Homo sapiens: one gene and its partner. The protein of the gene in region 1 purifies or fractionates together with the protein of each later gene. This does not show direct contact. Each region holds a gene or a part of one and is shown on either strand. Other genes may lie near its edges.

Region 1 (7,093 bases):
TTCTGAGCAGACCAAAAGGAAGCCATCCTGCGTTGAAAATCTGTTAAAATGTGACCTAAGAGTTTTTTGTGTGTTTGTTTGTTTTTTGAGACGGAGTCGCCCCGTCGCCCAGGCTGGAGTGCAATGGCGCGATCTTGGCTCACTGCAACCTCCGCCTCCTGGGTTCAAGTAATTCTCCTGCCTCAGCCTCCTGAGTAGCTGGGATTACAGGCGTGTGCCACCACGCCCAGCTAATTTTTTGGATCTTTAGTAGAGACGGGGTTTCACCATGTTAGCCAGGCTGGTCTCGAACTCCTGACCTCAAATGATCCTTCCAACTCGGCCTCCCAAAGTGCTGGGATTATAGGCATTAGCCACTGTGCCTGGCCCTGGATTGGTTATTGACCATACAGAATTCACTCTGAGTCCCAGCTGATTCTAATGGGTGGGGTTTTTTTGTTTGTTTTAATTTTAGTTTATTTTTCTTTTTTTTGGAGACAGGGTCTCACTCTGTTGCCTAGACTGAAGTGCAGTAGTGTGGGGATCCTCCTGCCACAGCCTCCTGAGTAGCTAGAACTACAGGTGTACACCCCCATGCCTGGCTAATTTTTTATTTTTTGCAGAGACTGTGATCTCACCATGTTGCCCAGGCTGGTCTCAAACTCCTGCCCCAAGTGTTGGGATTACAGGCACGTGAGCAAGCACACACGACCCTAATGGGTGTTTCCATACTTCCTCACTACATCCCCCACTCAGAGATTGATAATTTAAGCTTTTCAGTATCCCTACCAAATACTGATAGTAATTAAACCCTTCCTTGAACCCCTCGCAGATGGTATCTGTGAAAATAAAATAAGAAAATCAATGGGGAAGTGCTTTGAAAATTATGCATTGCTAAGTAAACTGAAGGGCCCTGGGATGTGTCTGCAGTGAGAGGGTTTGAACTCTGCATCTGGTAATGGGAGCTTTCGGAGACTGCTCTTCCTGCTGTGACCACCCTAAGTTGGGAGACAGAAATGTTTCAAGAATACAGGGAAGGTGAAGTTGCTATAGTGAATGGGGTGGTTAACAAAATAATATGTGCTGAAAATCTCTCAAAACAGAAAGGTCAAAATGCTTTCATTATTGAGTGCTTTAAAAATGATTTAAAAATAGTTATTCAAGGCTGGGCACGGTGGCTCACGCCTGTAATCCCAGCACTCTGGGAGGCCAAGGCAGGTGGATCATCTGAGGTTGGGAGTTTGAGACCAGCCTGACCAACATGTAAAACCCCGTCTCTACTAAAAATACAAAAAAAATTAGCCAGGTGTGGTGACACATGCCTGTAATCCTAGCTACTCGGGAGGCTGAGGCAAGAAAAGCGCTTGAACCTGGGAGGCGGAGGTTGCGGTGAGTCAAGATCGCGCCATTGCACTCCAGCCTGGGCAACAAGAGCAAAACTCCATCTCAAAAAAAAAAAAAAGTTATTAAAGCCAGGCGCAGTGGCTCACGCCTGTAATCCCAGCACTTTAGGAGGCTGAGGCAGGAGGACTGCTTGAGCCCAGGAGTTCAGACCAGCTTGGGCATCATAGCGAGACCTAGTCTCTACCCAAATAATAATAATAATAATAATAACAAAAAATTAGCTAGGTGTAGTGGTGCCAGCTGTGGTCCCAGCTACTCAGGAGGCTGAGGTGGTGGGATGATCCCTTGAGCCCAGGAGGTTTCAGGTTGCAGTAACAACTGTACTCCAGCCTGTGTAACAGAGCGTGACCCTGTCTCAAAAAAAACCAAAAAAGTCGCTCATTCATTCCTGTCTTACTAACGGATGTGGAAATGAGAAGTTCCATCTTTGCCTGGAGGAAGTGTAGAATACACAGAGCAGAGAATATACAATGATAGCTACCATTTCTTGAAGACCTACTGTGAGCCAGGGACAGTGTTAGGGGCTTTCTACATATTATCTTATTTAATACAAGCAATCATCTTGAAGGCAGGAATTGATATCTTCAACAATGAGTAATTAACTACCAGAGAGGTAAAGGGAGTTTGTCCAAGGTCACCCATATAAATGCAAGAGTCAAAATTAAAATCCACGTCTGCCTGAATGCCAAAGCTCAAGTACTCTCCAACACTAATAAGGTGAGAGTAATCCATTCACTGAAAAAAATATTTGAGTGCCTCAGGCCGGGCGCGGTGGCTCACACCTGTAATCCCAGCACTTTAGGAGGCCGAGGCAGGTGGATCACGAGGTCAGGAGATCGAGACCATCCTGACTAATACAGTGAAACCCCGTCTCTACTAAAAATACAAAAAAATTAGCCGAGCATGGTGGCGGGAGCCTGTAGTCCCAGCTACTCGGGAGGCTGAGGCAGAAGAATGGCGTGAACACAGGAGGCTGAGCTTGCAGTGAGCTGAGATCGTGCCACTGCACTGCAGCCTGGGCGACAGAGCAAGACTCTGCTTCAATAAATAAATAAATACATAAAAATAAAAAAACTGAGTGCCTCTTTTGTTCCAGACATTGTTCTGAGTGCTAGTGATATAAAAGTGAAAAAACAAAGTCCTTGTCTCATGGGGCTCATGCTGTAGTGGAGAAAGACAATAAAAATGTAGTATGTCAGATGGTGATAAATGCTGTGAAGGAAAATTAGGATGGGGTGCGTAGGATTACTATTTTAACCAGAATGGTCAGGGAAGACTCTGATCATGTGAAGTCTGAGCAGACGTACAAGACTTGGAAGAAACAGAACTGGCACAAAGAAGAACTTCCTCCTTTGCCTACCTATGGGTTCAGTTTGGAAAAGAGGGGGCGGGATGGGAGTGCAGGTGTTAATGGAAACTATATGCTCAAAATCAGAAGACCTGAGCATTACTTTACTCCAGGTGATTTACTGGCAAATCTTTTCACCTTTGAGCCTCAATTCCCTTCACTGTAGACGGGAATAACAGTTCTTGCCCAGCTTCTCACACACAGCTGCCATGAGGATCAGATGAGATGACCCACTTGAAAGCCCTTTAAAAATAACACAATCAGGGCCAGGCGCAGTGGCTCACGCCAGTAATCCCAGTACTTAGGGAGGCTGAGGCAGGTGGGTCGCTTGAGGTCAGGAGTTGGAGACCAGCCTGGCCAACATGGTGAAACCCCGTCTCTACTACTAAAAATACAAAAATTAGCCAAGCGTGGTGGTGCGTGCCTGTAATCCCAGCTACTCGGTAGGCTGAGGTGGGAGAATCGCTTGGACCAGGGAGACGGAGGTTGCAGTGAGCCGAGATGGCGCCACTGCACTCCAGTTTGGGCGGCAGAGTGAGATTCTGTCTCAAAAAAAAAAAAAAAAAAAAGACCGGAAGTCAACTCTTCAAATAAAATGTATTCCTATCTCAGGTGCAGTAGTTACCCTAAACATCTTTTTGAAAGGCCGCCCAGGCTGAAAAAAGAGATAGGCTAAACTAAATAAGCATAAGTTTCATAATATGCCTCTGCTGAAGATTCTTGGGTAATTTACACCAGTCAAAAATTGTGGGCCGGGCGCGGTGGCTCACGCTTGTAACCCCAGCATTTTGGGAGGCCGAGGCGGGCGGATCGCCTGAGGTCAGGAGTTAGAGACCAGCCTGGCCAACGTGGTGAAACCCCGTTTCCACTAAAAATACAAAAATTAGCTGGGCATGGTGGCGGGCGCCTGTAATCCCAGCTACTCGGGAGACTGAGGTAGGAGAATTGCTTGAACACAGGAGACGAAGGTTGCAGTGAGCCGAGATCGCGCCACGGCACTCCGGCCTGTGAGACAGAGCGAGACTCCGTCTCAAAAAAAAAAAAAAAAAAAAAGTGTGTCGTGTGCTTCAACTAAACTAGGAAAGAAGTCTTGGGATTCTAATCTTTAACTCTAATCGCCACGCCCCTTCACCCGAACTCTATTTCCCAATATGCCCCGGGCTTCTATAATCCCGCAGTCATTGTGACGCAATCCCACAGCCTTCTGGGAAACGTAGTTTATTTATTCTCCAGCTGGGGAAAGGCTTAGGGCTGTGGACTACCTCTCCCGTGAGGTAGTGCGCAACTCCACCCTGTTCGCGGCGTCTTCGAACGCGCCGCGGCAGCCATGTTGGACGTGGTCAGCACAGGGGCCGGCACCACGGGGTTATCGAAGCAGCTGTCAAGATGCTGGGGTCCCTGGTGTTGAGGAGAAAAGCACTGGCGCCACGGCTACTCCTCCGGCTGCTCAGGTCCCCAACGCTCCGGGGCCATGGAGGTGCTTCCGGCCGGAATGTGACTACTGGGAGTCTCGGGGAGCCGCAGTGGCTGAGGGTAGCCACCGGGGGGCGCCCTGGAACATCGCCGGCCTTGTTCTCCGGACGTGGGGCAGCCACCGGGGGGCGCCAGGGAGGACGCTTCGATACCAAATGCCTCGCGGCTGCCACTTGGGGACGCCTTCCTGGTCCCGAAGAAACACTCCCAGGACAGGACAGCTGGAACGGGGTCCCCAGCAGGGCCGGACTGGGCATGTGCGCCCTGGCCGCAGCGCTGGTGGTTCATTGCTACAGCAAGAGTCCGTCCAACAAGGGTGATTATGAGATCTGGGTTTGAGGAAGGGAGAGGCGGGAAGATTGTCCTAACTTCGTATCTTAGGAGGGTGGGAGGTACTTATAGGTTTAGATCCTTAGAGCCTAAGTCTTGGAGGGACTCAGACATCATCTGGTTACAGGGGCAGGGTGTTGCCCTAGAGACCTCATCACCTCGGAGTTGTATAATCTCGTACCATAGATCCGCTTCCCCTCTCTGGGCATCATTTTATCCATCTGTACAATGGGGATATTGGACTAAACATCTAATATTATAGCATGGTCCCCTTATGTTTCTCATATTCTGCCTGGTCCAATTCCTCTTTCCTGAGATCTCCAGGAAACGGAAATTATGGGGTGTTTTAAGGGCAACCGCCAGATGGTTTAGAGAAGTTGCCAAACCGCTCCCCCCTACCCCCCGCCACCAAAGGTGCCAGAGTCAGGAACAACCTGACTCGGTTCTAATGCCAGCTTGACCTCAATTTATTTATTTATTTATTTATTTATTTATTTATTTATTTATTTATTTATTTCTGAGATGGAGTCTTGCTCTGTCGCCAAGCTGGAGTGCAGTGGCGCAATCTCGGCCCACTGCAACCTCCGCCTCCCGGGTTCAAGCTATTCTCCTGCCTTAGCCTCCCAAGTAGCTGGGACTACAGGTGCGGGCCACCACACCCAGCTAATTTTTGTATTTTTAGTTGTTGGTCAGGATGGTCTCGATCTCTTGACCTCCTGATCCACCCGCCTTGGCCTCCCAAAGTACTGGGATTACAGGCGTGAGCCACCGCGTCTGACCAATTTCTTTATTTATATAGTGAAGGATAGTTTCCCAACATTTTTACAGTACTGTTATTTTGACTCTTTTTGGAGTTCAGCGGCCTGAGTCTGTCAGTCTCAGGATTTTGCTGTGTCTGGTCTCACATGCTGTGAGGTGATCTTGCCATGTGGGATAGTTGGCAGGAGAAGGAAGGTGGATTCCTGGAGGCCCAAGGGCAACTGCTGGGGGACTGGCTGATCCCGATTAGCATCTCATTTGGATCCGGGGAGCTAAGCAGCAGCTGAGAGAGTGGACAGAGAGCCAGACTGATGACCTATGTGAGTCCAGCCATTCAGGTTCTTAGTTGTTCCTCAAGAAGAAAGACTGAGGCATGGTGTCCATAGATTCCATGCACCCCAAGCTCTGAGAATTTGGAGCAAGAGTTGGGGAGTAGGGAGTGCCTTGACTTTGATTCGTTTGATGTGGCCAATTGTAAAGGAAGGACTTTGGTCTGGGAGAGACAACACTGGGGATCTTGTTTTGGTTCTGTGTCTAACTCTCATTGTGAATTTGGACTTTTGCTTCTCCTCACGGGTCCTCTGTTTCCTCATCTACAAAATGAGGGTTTTGAAATAGACACTAAGGGCATCGAGCTTAGGCATGTTGTAATCCTATAACTTCCAGCATTTTTGGGGGTACCCACTGTGTGTCTAGTTTTAGGCTAGGTGTGTGGGAAGTCCTAACTTAACACAAAATCAGTCAAGGGGACAGTGCAGGCAGTTGGAATGTAGGGCTGGTGAGTGGTGCTATGTGTCGTTGGGGGATCAGAGGGCCAGTAGGGTCAGGAAAGCCTTTCTGGAGTATTGGAGACCCCAGAGGATGGGAAATTTGAACTTGAGTTCTGAAGGATGAAGTAGAAACGGAAAGGGGAGTGATCTTTTGAGCCCCATGAGAGCAGGAAATGTATCTTCTCTTTTGTTTTTTCAGGTTATACTAGCAACTTTCCCGAATACCTAGACATCATTTGCCCACCACAGTGTCTGGAACTTAGTAGGTGCTCAGTAAATGTGTGAGAGTTGGATTATATTCCATGCAAAGGCTTCAGGGAATGGAAATAACAGTTTCGGGGCACCATGGTGTGTGCAGGGGCCAGCAGAGCAGCCAGCTTGGTTGGAGGATAAGGTCTTTGGAATTAGATGAGAGCAGATGGAGTGGGGCCTGGATGCCAGTCAGGGGTGGGGTAGGTGAGGGTGTTGGAATTTCTTCTGTAGGCAGTGGAGAGTTATGGAAGGTTCATGAGCAGGGAATGTTCTGAGTCCAGTGTATTTGGTGAGGTCTTGCCTAAGAAGTTCCTGGGGGTTCCCAACTGGACTTTATGGCCTATGAACTCCAGCAAGAATACCAGGGTCTATTTACCAAAATAGATAATGGTCAAAGCCGTGACCAGTTCCTGCTGGAACTGACTTGCCAGCTACCCTGTCCCCTGACTTAGAGTTTTGACCCTCAGTGCAGTGTGGTAGAAACTGAACCCTTTTAGAAGCCAGGAGGCCCTGGTTCTTAGCTCATTCCTCACTCTGTAACCTTGTAGAAGCCACATTTTTTTCTGCAGAGTGAAGGGAGAGTGGATATAGCCATCTCTAAGGAAGGCTTGATCCCCTCCCAGCTGGTGGCTGTCTGAGCCATGCTTGGGTATGTGCTTTAGGTACATCCGGTAAGGTAAGTAGAAAGGACCTGTCCCTGGAATCTAGGCCAGGAGGCATCAATGTCTGAACCACAGGACTGGCTTTCATATGCATGATAAGGTGTATTGTACAGATA
Region 2 (3,660 bases), on another chromosome or scaffold:
TGTCATGGTGGTGGGTTGTTGGGAAAACGTCCTCTGCTCATACTTCTGACATCAGTTGTGTGGGTATTTTCACACCAAACAATTCTTCAACTTCTGGAAACGAATTGGGTATCCAAGGATTCCATTCAGCATTGAACAGAATTGCCAGTGCTGACACTACAGGAGTTAGTACAGACCCCACAGATTAAGGGCTCAGTCCCATAAGACTGCCCCCACTTCAGATGCCAGTCACAACTTCCAGGGGCTGCCCATACTTCTGTTCCCTCAGCGCCTCTGCAGATGTGAGCATTCGCTAGCACAGCCCATGGAACTCAGAAGAGCACTTTACTTACTGTCATTGGTTTATTGTGAAGGATACCACTCAGGAAGAGCCAAATGGAAGAGACACATGGGCAAAGCCTGGGGAAGGGCTCAGAGCTTTCCCACCCTCCCTGGGTGCACCTTCCCAGCACCTCAGTGTGCTCACCAACCTGGAAACTCCCTGAGCCCCAAGAGCTGTTTAGGTGTCTTTGTGGAGGTTCCATTACATGGTTATGATTGATTAAATCATTGGTCATTGGTGATGGGGCTCAACCTCAGACCCCTTTCCCCTTCCTGAGGTCAGAGGCTGGGGCTGAGTGTTCCCGCCCTCTACTGACAGGATTGGTCTTTCTGGTGGCTGGCCTTATGCTGGGCTCTCAGGTCCCCACCTCAGCCACTGCAGTGGCATCAACTCAGGTGTGATGGAAAGGGGCATCTTATGATAGCACAAGATGCTTCTATCAGTCAGGAAATTCCCAGGGTTCTGTGAGCTCTGCGCCAGGAACTGGGCACAAAACCCAAATCTGAGTCTTGTATCACAGTCACCCAAAGGAAGTACTATCCTCAGCTCTTGCTAGCAGGTCAGGAGCCTGTTGTGTAGGAACTGTGTGCAGGCCTCCAGAGGTGGATAGATCTGAAATCGGAGTGGTCAGGGTTGGGACAGCTGCCCTAATTCACATCCTTCATTTGGAGATTGAAAGGAAAAACAGACTGGATGCATTGGCTCACCTCTGTAATCCCAGCACTTTGAGAGGCTCAGGCGGGAGGATTGCTTGAGGCCATCAGTTCAAGACCAACCCGGGAAACATAGCAAGACTCCCATCTCTACAAATAAAAAACAAAAAAATGAGCCAGCCATGGTGGCACACGCCTGTAATCCCAGCAGCTTGGGAGGATCTGAGGCGGGAGGATCATTTGAGCCCAGGAGATCAAGGCTGCAGTGAGCCATGATCGCACCACTGCACTGCAGCCTGGGGCCACAGAGCAAGACCCTGCCTCTTTAAAAAAAAAAAAAAAAGCAACCAAGATTCCCTCTTGATATCTGAAGGCAAAACATGGACCAATTTGTAGGACATTGTAAGTTGCAACTGGACGTAGCTAAGTGGGGAGAGGATGTCCACTTGGAGACAGTTAGTTACTCCAGGAGGTTGTGAGGCTACAGGCCCAGGGCAGAGAGCCAGGCCGTCCGACTGGGAGGATTGTACCTACATGCCCAGGACATGGGCAGATGGCCCCAGCTTGCCTGTGGCTGTGCCTGGGTGACCTTGGGCCTCTCTCTGCAGGGGACGTGACCTTGGACCCGGACACCGCCAACCCTGAGCTGATCCTGTCTGAAGACAGGCGGAGCGTGCAGCGGGGGGACCTACGGCAGGCCCTGCCGGACAGCCCAGAGCGCTTTGACCCCGGCCCCTGCGTGCTGGGCCAGGAGCGCTTCACCTCAGGCCGCCACTACTGGGAGGTGGAGGTTGGGGACCGCACCAGCTGGGCCCTGGGGGTGTGCAGGGAGAACGTGAACAGGAAGGAGAAGGGCGAGCTGTCCGCGGGCAACGGCTTCTGGATCCTGGTCTTCCTGGGGAGCTATTACAATTCCTCGGAACGGGCCTTGGCTCCACTCCGGGACCCACCCAGGCGCGTGGGGATCTTTCTGGACTACGAGGCTGGACATCTCTCTTTCTACAGTGCCACCGATGGGTCACTGCTATTCATCTTTCCCGAGATCCCCTTCTCGGGGACGCTGCGGCCCCTCTTCTCACCCCTGTCCAGCAGCCCGACCCCGATGACTATCTGCCGGCCGAAAGGTGGGTCCGGGGACACCCTGGCTCCCCAGTGACTCGGGCCCTCCTGGAGGAGTCCTGTTGCCTCTCCTGCCCCTCCAGGCCACTGAGTGTTTTGGCCACTTGGAGGACCTGGGAGGAGGGAGTGTGTCCTTTGAGCAAGAGGAGGAACTCCTGGTGCCTTTCTGAGCCTGCGTGGGAGAACCCCAATTCTAGCACTCCAGGAAACTGTGGGAGAGTGTGGGGCAGGCTCCGTCCTCCCTGGGAGACCCCTCCAGCCACCGGGTGCCACTTAATGCCAACAGCCCTTACCAAAGCTGGGAGCCCCATTGCCCCGGCAGCTCTGGCCTGTGGTTCCAGAAGCTGAGAAAACTCCACTGGGGCTTGCAGAATCCAGGGTTCACCTAAGCTGCACAGTTCCTGCAGCTTTGCCAGCCCCCTGAAAGTCTTGTGTACCCCACCTCTGAAGATGCTGGGGGAGGCAGCTGGGATGGGAGCCAGCCCCATGCCTGTCTGTGACCCCACAGTGGGTGAGAGCCCGTCACAGTCCTGGGTGTGGCTGCTCTGGAAGAATTAGGAGGCAGCCATAATAAGAGTCTTCAGAGAGATGATGGGAGGGGCCAGTGAGGACAGGAACAGAGAGTAGATGTCCTATAATAAAGGGGCTTCTGGGAGGTGCCTGGGCACAGATGTCTGTTCAGCAGGTGTGTGGGCCTAGAGGAGAGAGCAGAGCCCAGAAATGTCTTTTGCAGGCCCACGTTCTGACTTGAAGCTTTCGTGGGCATGTTGCCATTGGGTTTTGCCCTTGCAAAGGCTTCCTAGGTCTCCAGTGGCCCCTCAGGACCCAGGGTCCCAGCTGCTGCTTGGGGATGTGCACTGCTGGCCGCCGGCCTTGCAGTCTCTCTACCCTGGGGAGGAACAGTGGCTTCTCAGAGCCTGGGGCATACAGAAGAAGGCAGGAGTTGATTTTTGTGTTGGGTTTGGGGTTTCTTTGTCCTCAAGGTACTGTTCTGTTTCTCTTTACCCCTCTGCTTTATTTATTGTAAGCATTCCCACGTTAAATAAACTTTGGCTGTTGTCTACAAGTCATCCTGCTGGTGCCTGCTTAGTCCAGGAACAATAGCGGGTGCCCCACTGCCCAGCAGAGGGCAGAGCCCCAGGGAGGCTGTTGACGGGGCAGGCGGGAAGCTCAGGCAAAGTAAGGGCCGGGACGGGCAGCCACTTCCCACACCCAGGCACAGATGGGCTCTCCACTTTCTGTGCTCAATATATATGTTCCTTATGTGGAGCTATTGCCGGAATGTTTTTTTCGAGATATCCTGGTAAATGTTTCCTGCATTCCATTGTGCTTAACGAGTAGTCTCCTGATTATCATTTATTCAGTCACTCTCCCATTCTTGTCTTTTTTTTGGCAGGGGCCTGGGGGGGCATTATGTAATACCATGTTGAACAAGATCAGCAGTTTCATTCAGCTGCAACAAAGAGAAGTCTGAGTGGAAACCAGGGGACTGGGCATTTCTCTGTGTTGGGGTGGGGTTTTTGTTTGTTTGTTTGTTGTTTTTTGAGACAGGGTCACCCATGCTGG

The links. The genes of interacting proteins can lie anywhere in the genome.
Region 2: the proteins of CLPB (region 1) and TRIM11 purify together in Homo sapiens (co-immunoprecipitation; 3 studies listed by BioGRID and IntAct, with this or other methods). This does not show direct contact.

Annotation. Positions count from the first base shown.
Region 1 is NC_000011.10:72,431,499-72,438,591, reverse strand, and holds the start of CLPB (mitochondrial disaggregase), read left to right. Parts: upstream 1-4,060; 5' UTR 4,061-4,117; coding exon 4,118-4,520; intron 4,521-7,093. UniProt on the Homo sapiens protein: Functions as a regulatory ATPase and participates in secretion/protein trafficking process. Has ATP-dependent protein disaggregase activity and is required to maintain the solubility of key mitochondrial proteins.
Region 2 is NC_000001.11:228,393,176-228,396,835, reverse strand, and holds the end of TRIM11 (E3 ubiquitin-protein ligase TRIM11), read left to right. Parts: exon of another isoform or gene 1-93; intron 94-1,029; exon of another isoform or gene 1,030-1,125; intron 1,126-1,583; coding exon 1,584-2,131; 3' UTR 2,132-3,160; downstream 3,161-3,660.